Linked DNA regions of Homo sapiens: region 2 is linked to region 1. Evidence: fine-mapped expression QTL. Tissue or cell type: fibroblasts. Region 1 holds a variant in brackets; the other region holds the start of a gene. All regions are shown on one strand. Distances are from middle to middle.

Region 1 (8,102 bases):
ATCATGTAACTCACAACCAAACACAATATAAAATGAGTGTGAGAAAGGTCTACAGAGTTCTGATTTATCAGTGAATATTTCTGTATGCTGCTGTGGGTAAATTCAACCATCCAATTATTTTACTCAGTTACATTGAACCCCATTATACTGAGTTGAAATTGAACTGTAATTTTAAAGTTGGGAGCTCTGCTGTCCAATCTGGTAGCCACTATCCACATGTGGCTATTTAAATTCAAATTTTATTCAATTAAAAATAAATACTCTTAAAAATTGTTCTTCAGTGGCATTGGCCACATGTCCAGTACTCAATAGCCATATGTGTCTAGTGATTTCTATATGAAACAGTGAAATGATAGACTATTTTCTTTATCACAGCAAGTTTTGTTGAGATAGATAGATGATTAATTGATAAATTATAGGCAGATAGATGATTGACAGATAGATAGACAGACAGAAGTAGATGTAGACATGGACATGTTTAAAGTGGTATACTGGAGTCTGCTGAGTCCTGCTCTCTAGAACCAATTGTTAAATATTCAAAAATTTTGTGAGATGGTTGCCAAATCTTGGTAGCTTGAAATTGACCATGGTTATCATTTTGCCACTGTCTTAGTAATAATGGTTTTGGTTAAAACCATCCATGGGTCATAAAACTAGTAGATACAAGACTGAAGATTGAAGTAGATTTACATGGTATCAGAGGTGTCCCCCATTAGTTACTTATGCATTTCAAAGGGAAAAATAAAACTTTGCAGTAGATTAACCTTGCGAACACACTTTCAAGTACTGCCAGTTAAAATCACCCTTACTGGGATAGTGTGCTTCCTGATCGGTATGTTTGATATAAATTTCCAAGTAGAGGTTCTCACTTGGTGGATCTGGAGGAGGCTGAGAACTGGCATTTGATCTCATGTAGGTGATCCACAAACCACTGACTGTCCTCCAAGCATTCTAGGTTTGCTTAGGGTTGCCCTTTCAGCCTGGAACATGGCTATACCTGTGGGCTTCTGGAAAGTGCCTCCAGCTACCATTTATAACATCTAAATGTGTGTTGTTCTGCTATGTGGCAAAAATTCTCATCTTCCTGGAATACTTCCTGCACATTTTCAGAACAAGGCCCTCCCTCTTAGTGTCCCCGCCAGTAGCCCTCAGAAGCACTCCTTGGTTACCTTTGTGGGACTCAGTTTCTTTCGAATTCTGGGAGTCAATCATCAGCTGAAGGAAATCTAGTCGGTGCTAGAAGCAAAAGGAGAGATTTCTTTGGCAGAAAGTGACTCGTGAAGTCAGAAGTAAATCAAAAGTGCAGTCCTCAACCTCCCTTCTTGACTTCCCTCCCTCAACCTCCCTATGGCTTCTTGAAGACGTGTTACCTGAGTCACCAGTGAACAAAAACATTCATCTAAATCCTTGGAAAGCAGGATGTTTTCCTGAAACAAATCTAGCTATCATGTCCAATTGCTTTTTCGCCTTTGCCCTCCCTGTTTCTCATCTTCTCTGTCTTTTGGATACAGCTTTCTGGCCAAAGAGTTGCCGGTTCCATCTCTGGTCATAACTGCTTACCCAGGAAGAAGTACTGGATCTTTTATTCTTCTACCTTTTTCTTCAGCAGTGTCCGTATAGATTAATCTCCTGACATTTCCAGAACTCATCAGCAGCTTTTTTGGGGGAGCATTTTCAAATATTCCAACATTCTCAAACTCTATATAATCTTCAGTGACAGCTGGGTTACCTGGTCCTGTCTCCCTGACCTGCAGACATCCTTCGGCTGGCCTCTAGGGCTCGTGAAGGCAAAGCTGAGTTAGCCAGCCTTGCAACCTCAATTCTCAGAGAAGACCCCTGTTCACTCCAGGCTGTGAAACACTCACATTTACCACACACTACATGTCAGCAGTCGGCAGGTAGCCTCATAGGACCTTTAATTGCAGAATATGTAAAATAAGAGTCTTGGACTTAAAATGATTCTTTACCAATCTGTGATATGAGGAAAGCACAATACCAGTAAAATATATTTTCAAACAGGAAACTTTATCCTTTGACAATTTATTAAAGGGAAGAGAAGTGGTAAAATTTTATCTCAATACTGTTTATATCATGACATACTAATTGTTGTGCCTGATTTCAAGTTTTAAATGCTATCTCTCTGACTCATTCTCATCTCCTTCCCCAATCTCCTTCTTTATTTCTACCAAATGGCTTCTCTTGTTCTAAACATAAGTTCTCTGTCTTTATTTTTAAAAATACAGATACATGCTCTATCATGTGTATAAAATCTAAATTTATCAAAACCTAAACATCGTCATTTAACCACCATCAGATTTTACCTTTTGTTTGTCGTTGAGGCGACTTTTCTTCATTCTGTTTACAGATTTACTTAAAAAATTTATGGTATCTTTTGGAAACAGAGAGACATTTAATGCTTCAAAAACTGGGGTAAGGAATGGAAAGAGTACTGTGGGAAAAACAAAACAAACAAAAGGAAATCATTGAAAATGCAAACTTTACCTGGAGCAATTATAATTTTCTCTACCAGTAATAAGAATAAGAACATCATGATTCTCAACTGGAACCCATTCCTTTTATCATGTTTGCCCTTCTTTCAGGCCGGCGACTGAGCAAGGGCAGGTCTATACATAGGAAACACCACTACAGCAGTGAGATCAATGGCACCTTCTGAGTCTTTGGAGTGACCAAAGTAATAGAATTAAATTCCCTGACCTCTTAGCCTTTATCTATTGGACTAGAGTTTTTGGATTAATGTAGACCATAATCTGCTGCTTAACTTAATCATGCTGTTCAGGAAATGATAGTCAAGATAGAATTAACACAGCATATGTACATCAACTTCCATGGAATAAAACTAGAAATCAATAAGGGAAAGAAATTTGGGAAACTCATACATTTGTGGAAGTTAAACAATACAGTTTTAAGTGACCAGTGAGTCAAAGCAGAAATCAAAAGGGCAACAAGAAATTGTTTTGAGATGAACAAAAAGAAGGCATGATGTACCAAAACACAGGATGTAGCCAAACCAGTGCTCAGAGGGAAATTTATAGCTGTAATATCTAAATTTAAAAGAAGAAAATATCTCAAATTGATTATAATTATTTACACCACAAAACACTAAAAGAAGAAGAGCAAATGAAACCTAAAGCCAGCAAAAGAAAGAAAATAACAGACTAAAATAAACTCATGAAATAGAGAATAAAAAACAACAGAGAAAAATCAATGATATTATTTCTATGAAGTGTCCAGAATAGGCAAATCTATAGAGGCAGAAAGTTGATTATTGGATGCTTAGGGCA[G/A]TGGGGTTTGTGGTGGGGTGTTGACAGCTAAAGTGTGTGAGGGCTCTAGATTGACAAAAACATTTTAGTTTACAATAGTAATGGTCATACATATTTTTGATTATCTTAAAAACAATGGAATTGTACCTTTTAAGTGGATGAATTATACGATATGTGAATTATATGTCAAGAAAGCAGTTATTTTTAAAAAGAGAGAAAGAAATAATAGCCCACATACTTATTGAGAGAAATAATGGATCTAAGAAACCAAATTTTAGGAACTTCTTAGTGCTCTCCACAAAGGGGTCTTGTGGATTGTTGAGAGAGTCGATGTTCACTCCAAATGATGTGCCAGTAATCACATCCATGCTGTAGGCCCCAAAGATGCTGAGTGGAGAAAGATATGGAAAATTAAAATCAGCACCTCTTACCGTCCTTCCACTATACATGCAGCAAGAAACCCACATATCCAGTCAAGACACATAAAGAGCCACAGACTTTCAGAACTATCTGCTGAATCATCTTCCATCTACTCCCTCAGAAGGTGGTTATCTGGTGCCAGTGATGGAGCTGGCCCTATGCTGGGGGTGATGGAGACACCAAGCTGAGTTAGACTCACCTCTGAGGTCAAGGAGCCCAGTCATAGGAAGACAGAGACCCATTATCAGACAACTACAGTAGCATGTGTTGAGTGTGGATGATATAAGATATGTAAGCTCTGTGCTTCAGCAGAACAAGAGTAGAATAATTAACTCTTCCTAGTGGATTCAAGAAAGGTGGCGTTGTCTGACTACAGACTCTATGCCCAGAGCCAATTCCTCTTCAACACTTTACAAAACAGTAACACCCTGTTCTGAGTTCCTAGAAATATCATCCTTTATTCTCTACACTCCCTGCTAATGCTCTGGAAAACCCCACTATCCCCAGCTCCTCTGACCTGAAGTTGCGCTGAGAGCAGAGTCATTTTTGTAAGATGTGACAATCAAGAATGTTCTGGTTAAAAAAAATAGATCTCTCCAACATTGATTTGGAGAACCCAAAACTGAGTGACCACATGTCCCAAGTCTGAACAGGACAGGCTCAGATTACACCTGTCGTTCCTGCATAATTGAAGCACATACCATTGTAGACAGCAAATAATAGGCTTGCTCTACACATAGCATTTCTAGCACCCTTTCTTTTTTGAGATTGGAGGAAAAGGAAGTAGTGGGAAGGTTTAATAGTTCATAGTTTGCTGATATTCTCAGAAAAACCATGAAGGGATTGAAATTGTTCCAAGTTCCCCATTGTAACTTTCCCATCTTACCCAATGCAAGGCAACAAGTACCAAATGCTTGCTTACCCACAGTTCCATATCCACTACACTCAAAACTTTGATACAATCATGTTTTTTTAATTTCTAAAGTATGTATTTAATCTCCCAGAATATTTATGGTGACAAGTTAACAGATAAGTAAATCCTGGCTCCTGTGCACAGGAGAGAAGGCCCTTTTCCCTTGCTGACTTGCCGCCTCATGGGAGCCACTCCCTCTTAGGTGGCTCTTTGGAGTTGCAGCGCTGCCCTGCTTTTGTCTGGTCACTGGAGTAACCCAACAGTGCGACTGTCGACTCCATGGCAGGCAGCTGGAAGGGCTCATGACAGCTCAGAACCCCATGGCTGTGCTCCTACTTACTCTTTCAAGGTGACAGGCTTGCCTTTCTCTGCTTCCCGCCTCAAGTTTCTCACCAATACATCTCCATACTGGGCAATGATGGGGAACATCTAAGCACAAAACAGATCAGTACCTGTAGTTAAATGTGCAGACTCAAGTCCCAGAAGGATATGGCTTTCTCCAGCATGGAGCAGTAAGTGACATTTTGTAATGAATTTTGTGATGTCTTTTCTGTACATAAAGATAAAAGACCATTTTTAGGAAGCTCGAACTCAGTGGACTACCCCTTGGAAACGGACTGTGATCTTACTTTCTACCTGTCCCCAGATTCATTCTTTACATTTCTAATTAAGACTCATCTTATTTTCATACCTCCTTGAGTTTTCCGCTGGTGAAGGTTGGAGACAGCAATGACCGTATTCTCTTCCATTCTTCATCCTCAGCTAAAGAGATGGCACTTTTCATAAATCCCACTGGGCCTAAAGACTAGAGTTCAACAGAAACATTTTTTCTCACATTAGTTGTGGTGATCTTCATGGTTGCACAAAATATATTGAAGAGGCATCCTTATTTAACAAATATTTATTGACTGTATATGATATTATGGCAAGCCATATTCAAGATGCTCAATGGAGATCCTAGATGCCTAGCCTCTTCTGAGTGTATGTGGGGCGGGGGTGGGAGTGGGGAGACCCAGCCATCTGGTGTGGTCTCCTGCCTCTATATCTCAGTCTCCTTTTAATTGCAAATGCTCCACGTGGTAGGGAACTGTTCTTCCAGTGGAATAGACAGGAACAAGACCTAGCCCTTCCCCAGGAGTGTGCAGAGTAGAAAAGGATTGGTGACAGATGGGCAGACTGTATGTTGCCTCAGACCAGCTCTGTCTTTAATACACCTACAGCATGGGCAACTTGAAAAAGGGATGCCATGATGTGGTGATTTTTTTTTGAAAAGTAGGTAATACTTAAAGACTAGAAACCTGTTTTGAAGGAATAATGCAATTTCCTTGAAAATTCTTTTCTCTTAATTTTTTATTCCATAAATAGAAGGAAAAAGAAAGGGATAATTACTTTTCCCAACTTGGGGCTGGACTATCAAGCCAGCATGCTTGGAACTTTCTCTTATCTTCCACAACTATGTTTTGTTTTAAAATGTGTACTTCCAGCTGTCATGATAAAATCTCAATAAACTAGGAAGAGAGAGACAGTTCCTTCATTTGATAAAGACAATCTGTAAAAAAATCATTCAGTTAAATCACATTTAATGATGAAGGACTGAATGGTTTTTCCAAGATCAAGAAGAACTAAAAAATGCCCACTCTCAACATTCTTACTAAAGAGCATACCTGATGTCTTAATACACTAGACAAGAAAAAGAAATAAAAGGCATACAGATTGGAAAGGAAATAATAGAATTGTCTCTATTTTCAGGTGACATAATTGTCAATGTATAAAATGTCAAGGAATATACAAAAAAATTTCTAGAACGAATAGGTAAGTTCTGCAAGGCTATAGGATACAAGATCAACAAACAAAATTATTCACATTTCTATGTAACAATAATCAATATCTGAAAATACAAGAAAAACAGTATCATTTACAGTTACTCCAACAAAAATGAAATATTTCTGGTGTAAATCTAACAAAAGATGTACAGGACCTCTATGCTGAAAACTATAAAATGTTGAGGAAAGTAATAAAAGCTAAAGAAATGGAGAGGCATACTATATTCACGGGATGAAAGGCTGAACATAGTAAAGATATAGATTATACCCAAATTGTTCTATTGGTTTAATTCAAGCTTGTCCAACTTGTGGCCTGCAGGCCTCATGCAGTCCAGGATGGCTTTGAATGTATCCCAATACAAATGTGGAAACTTTCTTAAAACATTTTGAGTTTTTTTGCAATTTTTTTTGTAATTTTGTAATTTGACTATGTGATTCTCAAGTGTGAACTTCGTAGACAACAATGGAATGGAAAGGGGTAATCAGAGTATGTCACATCCACAAATAATGGACTAGTATCCATAATTTGCATTATAATTGCAAACAGTTCAGCAAGAAGAAATTAAAAGCCATTAAAATTAACTAACAAAGAGCGAGAGGACGCTATTGCAGTGCCACGTGAAGTGAATTGTGACAAAGAATTCAAGTGTGTATTCTGGACAAGGCAGAGCGCTGCTGTACACCAGACACTGTCGCCATTTGTACGCATGTGTGGCTTCAGTTTTATGGTGGTGTGCGACTTCCAGTGTGTTATCTTCTAATCACGGACAGTTGAATTGACACTGTCAGGTATTAGGTGTGTTTGTGGCAATTTGGCAAGTAAAACCCAGCAATTATCAATAATATTTCAACCTACCTTTGTAGATGATAGGTGTTTAATATTATTTAGAAGACATGTAAGTATTCTTATTTGATTATTAAACCTTGCTTTCTGTTCTATTTTCCTATCTGTTAATTTCCATAATAAAAGTAAATATAGTTGCTTATCTATTATAATGCTTTTAATTCCAGAATGGCTTCCACAATGTCTTAAAAAGAAAACCCTAAAAAACAAAAATTATGGATGAAGGAAGATTGTTCAATGAAAAGTGGACAAATGACTTTTTCTTGTTGAGGCAAATAGCGAAGCACTCTGCTTAATTTCCACGGAATTTGTGCCAGTTTTCAAAGACTACAATTTGAAGAGGCATTATATGCAAAAACGTGCTGACAAATTTGGTGTGTATGTGTTGTAAGGACAAAATAGCAGAACTGAAAAAAAGTCTGTCTTTTCAACAAAAAAGATTTTTTAAAAAGTTACAACTCGGACTCAATCGTAAGGTAAAACCTAGTTATGTGGTAGCAAATTTAATAGCAAAAAAATCAAAACCATTTACTGATGGTGAGTTTATTAAGCAATGTCTGGAAGATGTGGTAGATATTATTTGCCTTGAGAAACTGATATTTCTAAAATCAGTTTGTCTCACCAGACTATAGCCAGGAGAATTGGAGAAATTGGGAAATCTATTGAAAGACGTTTGGAGAGTAAAACTGCTAATTTAAAATTTTATGCTTTGGTGATGGATGAAGGCACTGACACTACAGATACGGCACAACTTGCTATTTTTATTAGAGGTATTGATGATGAATATAATGTCACTGAAGAAATCGAAATGTCACCATGCT
Region 2 (8,102 bases), 980 kb after region 1:
GATCGTGCCATTGCTCTCCAGCCTGGGCAACAAGAGTGAAACTCTGTCTCACAAAAAAAAAGAAAAAAACAAAAAACAAACAAAAAAATCATAAATTAGCTGGGCATGGTGGCTCACGCCTGTAGTCCCAGCTACTTGGGAAGCTGAGGCACAAAAATCACCTGAAGCCGGGAGGCGGAGGTTACAGTGAGCTAAGATCATGCCACTGTACTCCAGCTTGGGCAACAGAGTGAGAATTGGTTGCAAATATATAAAAATAAATAAATCCTGTCCCTAAATAATAATAATAATTTTGAAAAAAGAAAAATGAAAAATTAGCTGGGCGTGGTGGCCCCTCCCTGTAGACCCAGCTACTCAGGAGGCTGAGATGGGAGAATCACCTGAGCTTGGGAAATCGAGGCTGCAGTGAGCCCAGATTGCACCACTGCATTCTAGCCTAGGTGACAGAGCAAGGCCCTGTCTCAAAAAAAAATTAATGTAATTTAATTTTTTTTTTTTTGAGATGGAGTTTCACTCTTGTTGCCCAGGCTGGAGTGCAATGGCACGACGTTGACTCACCGCAACCTCCGCCTCCTGGGTTTAAGCGATTCTCCTGCTTCAGCCTCCCGAGTAGCTGGGATTACAGGCATGCGCCACTACGCCCGGCTAATTTTGTATTTGTTTTGTTTTTTTGAGACAGAGTCTTGCTCTGTCGCCCAGGCTGGAGTGCAGTGGCGCGATCTCGGTTCACTGCAAGCTCCGCCTCCCGGGTTCATGCCATTCTCCTGCCTCAGCCTCCCAAGTAGCTGGGACTATAGGTGCCCGCCACCACGCCCAGCTAATTTTTTGTGTTTTTAGTAGAAACGGGGTTTCACCATGTTAGCCAGGATAGTCTCGATCTCCTGACCTCATGATCTGCCCACCTCGGCCTCCCAAAGTGCTGGGATTACAGGTGTGAGCCACCATGCCTGACCTGTAATTTAATTTAAAAGCCCTGAGCAGGCTGGGTGCGGTACCTCATTCCTATAATCCCAGCATTTTGGGAGGCTGAGGTGGGAGGATTGTTTGAGGCCAGTAGTTTGAGACCATCCTGGGCAACATAGGGAGACCTCGTTTCTACTAAAAAAAATTAAAAATTAGGCTGGGCATGGTGGCTCATGCCTGTAATCCCTGCACTTTGGGAGGCCGTGGTGGGTGGATCATCTGAGGTCAGGAGTTTGAGACCAGTCTGCCCAACATGGTGAAACCCCGTCTCTACTAAAAATACAAAAAATTGGTTGGGTGTGGTGGCAGGCACCTGTGATCCCAGCTACTCGGGAGGCTAAGGCAGGAGAATTGCTTGAACCTGGGAGGTGGAGGTTGCCATGAGCCGAGATCGCACCACTGCACTCCAGCCTGGGCAACAGTGAAACTCTGTCTCAAAAAAAGTAAAAAAAAAAAAAATAGCCGGGCATAGTGGCACACATCTGTAGTCCTAGCTACTTGAAAGGCTAAGGTGGGAGGATCACTTGGGTCCAGGAGTTGGAGGCTGCAGTGAGCTATCATCTCGGCACTGTCTGGGTGACAGTGAGGCCCTATCTCAAAAAAATAAAGCCCTGAACATTGTTGATTCCACAGACTCAAGGTCTTTCAGCAGGTGAATCCAGCAACATATCAAAAGAGTAATCATACACCTTGATCAAGGTTAGCGTTGAGCTCAGGAAGATAAGGAAATCTATTAACACAAATTACTATATAAACATTAAAGAAGAGGCTGGGTGCTGTGGCTCATGCCTGTAATCCCAGCACTTTGGGAAGCCGAAGCGCTTTGGCAGATCGCTTGAGCTTACGAGTTGGAGACCAACCTGGGCAACATGGCAAAACCCTGTCTCTACTAAAAAATACAAAAATTAATCAAGCGTGATGGCACACACCTGTAATCCCAGCTACTCAGGAGGCTGAGGCATGAGAATCGCGTGAACCTGGGAGGCGGAGGCTGCAGTGAGCCAAGATTGCACCACTGCACTCCAGCCTGGGTGATAAGAGGGAGACTCCGTCTCAAAAAATCAATCAATCAATAAAAGTCTCAGTGAGCTAGGAGTGAAAGGAAACTTCCTTAATTCAATTTTAAAAAGCTGTCTGGAGCACAGCAAAGTTCATTGTCAATGGCAAAGTATTATAAAAGCATTGCTATTAAAGTCAGGAAATAGGCAAGGATACCTACTGCCACGGTTACCTTAAATTCATGTCCTCTCAAATGCAATGAGAAATGAAAAAAAAAAAAACGTAGAAGGTATAAGCATTGGAAAAGAGAATCTCCATCTCCTACTATCTGTAGCTTAGCTGATTACCTACTTAGAAAACCCAGGCGAATCCACTGAAAAATTACTCCCGTCCCAAAAGAGGGCTATGGGTGGACCTAGCTTTTGGATCTGCACCCACAAATGCATTTGCTTACTTGTTTTTCTTTTTTTCTTTTCTTTTTTTTTTTTTTTGAGATGGAGTCTCGCTCTGTTGCCCAGGCTGAAGTGCAGTGGCGTGATCTCGGCTCAATGCATGCTCCACCTCCTGGGTTCAAGCCATTCTCCTGCCTCAGCCTCCCGAATAGCTGGGACTAGAGGCGCCCGCCACCATGCCCGGCTAATATTTTGTGTTTTTAGTACAGACGGGGTTTCACCGTGTTAGCCAAGATGGTCTCGATATCCTGACCTAGTGATCTGCCCGCCTCCGCCTCCCAAAGTGCTGGGATTACAGGCCTGAGCCACCGCACCCTGCCGTTATTTTGTTTTTGAAACAGGGTCTCGCTCTGTCTCCCAGGCTGGAGTGCAGTGGCATAATCTCGGCTCACTGCAACCTCCGCCTCCCCGGCTCAGGCAATCCTCCCCCGTCAAGCTCCCAAGTAACTGGGACTACAGGCACTCGCCATCATCCCCAGCTAATTTTTGTGTTTTCTTTGGTAGAGACGGGGTTTCATCGTATTGCCCAGGCTTGCTTGCTTGGTTTTCTGATTCCCTAGAATGCGGCTTCTCAGAACCCCTCAGCGCTCCCTGCTCCAAATCTAGGCGCCTGGGTGAGGCATTCAAGGCTTTTCTGGGTCTGTCCAGTCTGATACTGGATGCTGCACCCCTCTGATCTCAGACAGTCAGCTCCCTCACCTCCCAAATATGCCACCCTCAGAGCCTCAGTCCCCTGGAACCTCAGCTCCGAATGCCTGCCATCCTTCCCAGGACCGCTGAACAGGGGGGCCAGGAAGGCAGATGGGAGGACTCAGGAGGGGGACCCAGACACCAGAGGCCTGGGCCAGGAGGCAGGGAGGCCCAGTCTGAGCGGATGAGGGGAGGGACACTCGAGAACAGGATGGGGCAGGGCCATCCCTACCTGATGGTGTCCTCCAGGCGCCCCTCCCCCAGGAACTGCAGGAACATGGCCTGGAGGTCGCTCCAGTAGAGTCTGCCCTGGTGGAAATCCAGGTCAGGCTCATAGTTGACATCCTCACTGACCACCAACACAGAGTCTCCGCACGCCTGGCAGGACCCTCGGAAGGCGACGTAGCCCAGTAGGAAGGCTGGCGGGTGGCAAGATGGGGATTCTCTTTATGCCCACCTCTGGACCCCAGAAATCTCCCCCAGCCCAAGCCCTTCACTTCTGGGGAGGGGGACGGCTCTCACCCCCAGTGAAGATCAGCAGGGCCGTCAGGACCAGGTAGGGGGCAGCCCTCCGTCCTGCTGCCGCCCAGGGAATGAGGTTTGGCTGCCTGGGTCTAGAGCCCAGGGGCTCAGGGCCCCTCAGCTCCATGGGGCAGAAGTGGGCCAATGTCTCCGCCCCCTCCTCCCCGTCTTCCTCTTCCTCCTCCAGGTGCCCTTTCCGGGGGCCTTCCACACGCTGGTAGACGGTCTGAGAGGATCTTGGGGACAGTTGTTGCTGTGCAGGCGAGGTGGGCATGAGATTGGGGCAAGAGGCCTGGGGGGTGGGGAGGCATCTGGCAATAATGAGGTCAGTGACTTGGGGGTGTCAAATGAGCATGGTGGTGGGGGCGTGGGGGAGGGGCAGGGGTGGGAAGAAGCGAGGTCAGGACACGGTCCAGGAGGGGCCAGCCTCAGGGGCTTGGGAGGGGGCTGAGGGACTTAGAGAGAAGGCCTAAGGGGTCTTCCCAATCCCACTAGTCTTACCGCTCTCTGGAATAGACCCCAAAGCCGCTCCATGCTTGTGTCCCCTCCTGAAGCCTGCAGGCTGTCCCCCAGCGATAAACCGATAAACCGTTTGTGGGAGCCCTAGGAGGGCCCCTTATCAGTCCTGGCAGGCAGCCTGAACCAAGGCTGCTCCTCACCACCCCCAAGGGTGGGGGCACAGTCCTGGCCTCAGTCCAGCCTTCCAGACGTGGCCCCCGGGTCCAGGCCAGAGCACAAGGGGCTGTGCTCTCCCCTGCCAATCTCTCCACAGCCCCACGCCTGCCTCCTCCCTGCAAAACAATCAATTTTTTGACCTTGGGGCGGACTTTGGCCTCCTAGTTCCCATCAGGGGTGGGGGAAGGGGGCCGATAGTGGGGGAGGGCAGAGACATGGGTGCCCCCTCCCCTCTCCTGCTTTTACCCCTCCCTGGATCCTGGGGACCCCTTCCTAAGCCCCGCCATGCCCAGGTGGAAGATTCACCCCTAAGACATCTGCCCCTTCCTCATCTGGCCTTCAGAGTCCCCCAGTGCCCCGGTCCTGTGACATATCAGCTGTCCTCCCTGTCCTGACACTTGCCCCAGTGGCATTCTAAGCTGGAGGCACCACAGTGGTGTGACTTGGGGGTCTGGTCTGGTGGTGTGCATGTGTGTCTCTTTTGAAAGGTCGTTCTCAGACTCCTGCTGGCTGCTGGAGAAGGAGGGGCACAGGTGGGAGCACATGGTCAGATGAGACCAGCGAGAGCTCCCAGATAGGGGTCCTGGGGTCAGGGATATGTGGGTCAGTGGGGAGGAGTGATCAGAGTCCCCGCCAAGGTGTGGGCAGAGCTGGGTGACCCTGGACAAGTCATGGTCCTCCCTGGGCACCGGCCCGTTTGGTCACCGAAGGACTTGGATCACATGGGTTTCTACCTCTTTGGGTTCTGAGGCTGATGAAAGGCCAGTTAGCCTCACCCCAGAAACATGTCACAGGCATAAACTGCTAAACAGGCAGGGGGCGCAGGTCCCCAAACCCTTCCGAGGGCCCCAAGACAAGTAGCTCTGAAGAGGAGGGCTCAGGGTCCCACCAAGTTTCCCTTTCGGGTTTCCCCTGGGAAACATCAGCTCCTACTCAGGTCCAGAGAAGTTCCGAGCTGCTGGGATGCACCAGCGCCCTAGTCCCCGCCCCATGTCTGTCACCACCAAGAGCCCCAGGAAGGAAGGCATAGCGCATCTCACCTGAGCGCAGGTCCTGGGGTGCTCAGGCGTGCTGCTCCCCTGAGACCTAAGGCCTACGCTGAGGCCCCGCCCACCAGGCCCCACCTCCTGTTCCGCCCATCCAGGCTTCACCTCCTGCTCCACCCACCTCCTGCCACACTCACCCCAGGCCGTGCCCCTCCACTGCACCCTGCAGCCCCTCCCACCTCCCACCACAACTGTTAGCCCCCAGCAACTCCCCCAACCCCCGGTCCTCGTCATGTGGCCCTCCCTGGGTCACAACCCCTAGGAAACCTGAGGAATCCATGGCCCCTGGGGCTGTGTCCCAGCACCCACTGTGGGATCGGCATGGGTGTAGAAGTGAGACTCCCTCCCCTCACCTCCCTCCAGACCCCTGTGCCCACTCCCCACCCCACGGAGGCCAAACTTTTTTTTCTTAAAACATTTTTACTTCTTTCAACCCAGAAACATCACCATTAATGAGGACAAGAGGGAAAGGAGGAGGGGGGCAATGTGGCATGGGGGTTAAGGGACTTCCATCTGAGCTTGGGAGCAGGTGTGTGGGGAGGAGTGCCATCAGGGGCACTTTCGCTCCACGCACTGCTTCCCGCCCTCCTCATATTCCTGCTTGGAGATCCACATCTGCTGGAAAGTGCCCTGGGTGGAGGGGGTAATATCAGGGTCAGGGTGGCCTTGGAGGGAGGTGTGGACAGGCAGGTGCAGCCCCTGGGAATCCTCCAACAGGCCCCAACCACCCCTTGGGTTCACATCCCTCTGAAGCCCCTCCCCACCTCATCCTCCCCTCCTCGGTCTGTCCCCTTTCATATTCAGAGGGAGAGTATCCTCTTCATATCATTCAATCAATAATTCATTCATTCAACAAGTATTATTGAACAGCAGTCTCTGCCCTGAGCTAGGCCCTGTTCCTGAGCTGGGGGGATGGCACGCACAGCCCCAGGCCAGGCAACCTGCACCTGGCACTCAACACCCCCTACACACACACAGTCCTTCCCCACCAGGTGTCCTCTTCTCACTCCATCAGGGCTTTGGAACACCGCCAGTCTCCCTCTTTCCCAAGGAAGATATTCCCTCCACCTCACCATTCCAACACTGTGGCACCCCATCTGCAGCCTTCGGCATTACAACTTGCCCCTTGAGGGTTCCTGCAATGAGCATCTCAGAGTGTCCCTTCTCTCTATTTTTTTAAAATTTTAATTTTAATTATTTTTATTTTTATTTTATTTTTTTGAGATGGAGTCTTGCTCTGTCGCCCAGGCTGGAATGCAGTGGTGCGATCTTGGCTCACTGCAGCCTCCGCCTCCCAGGTTCCAGCGATTCTCCTGCTTCAGCCTGCTGGGTAGCTGGGATTACAGGCGCGTGCCAACACGCCCGGCTAATTTTTGTATTTTTAGTAGAGACAGGGTTTCGCCATGTTGGCCAAGCTGGTCTCAAACTCCTGACCTCAGATGATCCGCCCGCCTCGGCCTCCCAAAGTGCTGGGATTACAAGCGTGAGCCACCGCGCCCAGCCTAATTTTTATTTTTTGTAGAGATGGTGTCTCACTATGTTGCCCAGCCTGGTCTCAAACTCCTGGGCTCAAGTAATCGTTCCACCTCAGCCTCCCATAATGTTGGGATTACAGGCGTGAGCTACCACGGCTGGGCTTCTTTGATCTTTCTCAGCCTACACACATGTGCTGTCCAATGCAGTGGCCACTAGCTTCCTGTAGCTCACCAGCCCTGGTCCAAATTGAGACGTGCTCTAAGTGGAAAATACACACCCAATTTTTTTGGGTTTTTTTTGAGACAGGATCTTGCTCTGTCACCCAGGTTGGAATGCAGTGGCACAGCTCACTGCAGCCTCAACCTTCCAGGTTCCAGTGATCCTCCAACCTTGGCCTCCCAAGTAGGTGGGACTACAGGTATGCGCCACATTGCCAGTTGCTTTTTAAATTTTTTGTAGAGATGAGGTCTCGCTTTGTTGCCCAGGCTGGTCTAGAAATTTTGGGCTCAAATGATCCTCCCGCCTTGGCCTCTCAAAGTGCTGGGATTACAGGTGTGAGCCACTCCACTTGTCCAGGATATATTATTAATACTTAATTTCAGGCCGGGCATGGTGGCTCACACCTGTAATCCCAGCACTTTGGGAGGCCAAGATGGGCAGATCACTTGAGGTCAGGAGTTTGAGACAAGCTTAGCCAACACGGTGAAACCCCATCTCTATTAACAATCCAAAAATTAGCCAGGCGTGGTGGCTCACGCATGTAATCCCAGCTACTCGGGAGGCTGAGGCAGAAGAATCGCTTGAACCCAGGAGATGGAGGTTGCAGTGAGCCAAGATTGCTCCACTGCACTCCAGCCTGGGCGACAGTGAGACTGTCTCGAAAACAAAAACAAAAACAAAAAAAGGAAAAAAACAAGAACTGTGTGGCTGACATGCTTCAGCCCTGAGCTAAGTTCAGACTGCCAGCCTCTGTCTTTCTGACCCTGGTTTCTGTCTCCCTGGGGGACTTCCTTTCTCGTGGATGTCCTCCTTGTCTGTCATGGCCCCACTGTCCCCTCTGTGTGACTGATACCCTCCAGATGCGGGTTGCAACTCCAGCTCCCTGCTCAGTACCTTCCTTCGAACCCAGCAGCAGGTCCAGACTGAACTTACCACCTCCTGCCCCAGAACCAACCTGCCTGCCTCCTTTACTAGTTGCCCCTTGCTGTCCACCCCATCCCCACTGCTACCCATGCTATGACTCCGGGACAATCAAAACAGCCTCCTTGTAAGGTCCCCT

What was found. PIP is the estimated chance that this variant, and not a neighbour inherited with it, causes the effect. A credible set is the group of variants that fine-mapping cannot tell apart.
Region 2: it holds the start of TFR2, and the variant in region 1 is the best candidate, but not a certain one, in a credible set for the expression of TFR2 in fibroblasts (GTEx, PIP 0.60).

Annotation. Positions count from the first base shown.
Region 1 is chr7:99,661,647-99,669,748 of GRCh38, forward strand. CYP3A5 (cytochrome P450 family 3 subfamily A member 5) reads right to left here. Exons shown (of 13, transcript NM_000777.5): 5 at 5,306-5,419; 6 at 4,955-5,043; 7 at 3,520-3,668; 8 at 2,322-2,449; 9 at 1,170-1,236. It also overlaps a transcript of ZSCAN25 not described here. Among named protein-coding and RNA genes, the nearest start is that of CYP3A5, 14 kb to the right of the region's middle. The variant G/A (reference allele first, on the strand shown) is at 3,303.
Region 2 is chr7:100,637,350-100,645,451 of GRCh38, forward strand. It overlaps TFR2 (transferrin receptor 2), which reads right to left and starts at 4,203. Exons shown (of 18, transcript NM_003227.4): 1 at 4,128-4,203; 2 at 3,627-3,879; 3 at 3,337-3,523. The coding sequence starts at 4,160. ACTL6B (actin like 6B) reads right to left here. Exons shown (of 14, transcript NM_016188.5): 14 at 5,748-5,977. The coding sequence ends at 5,897.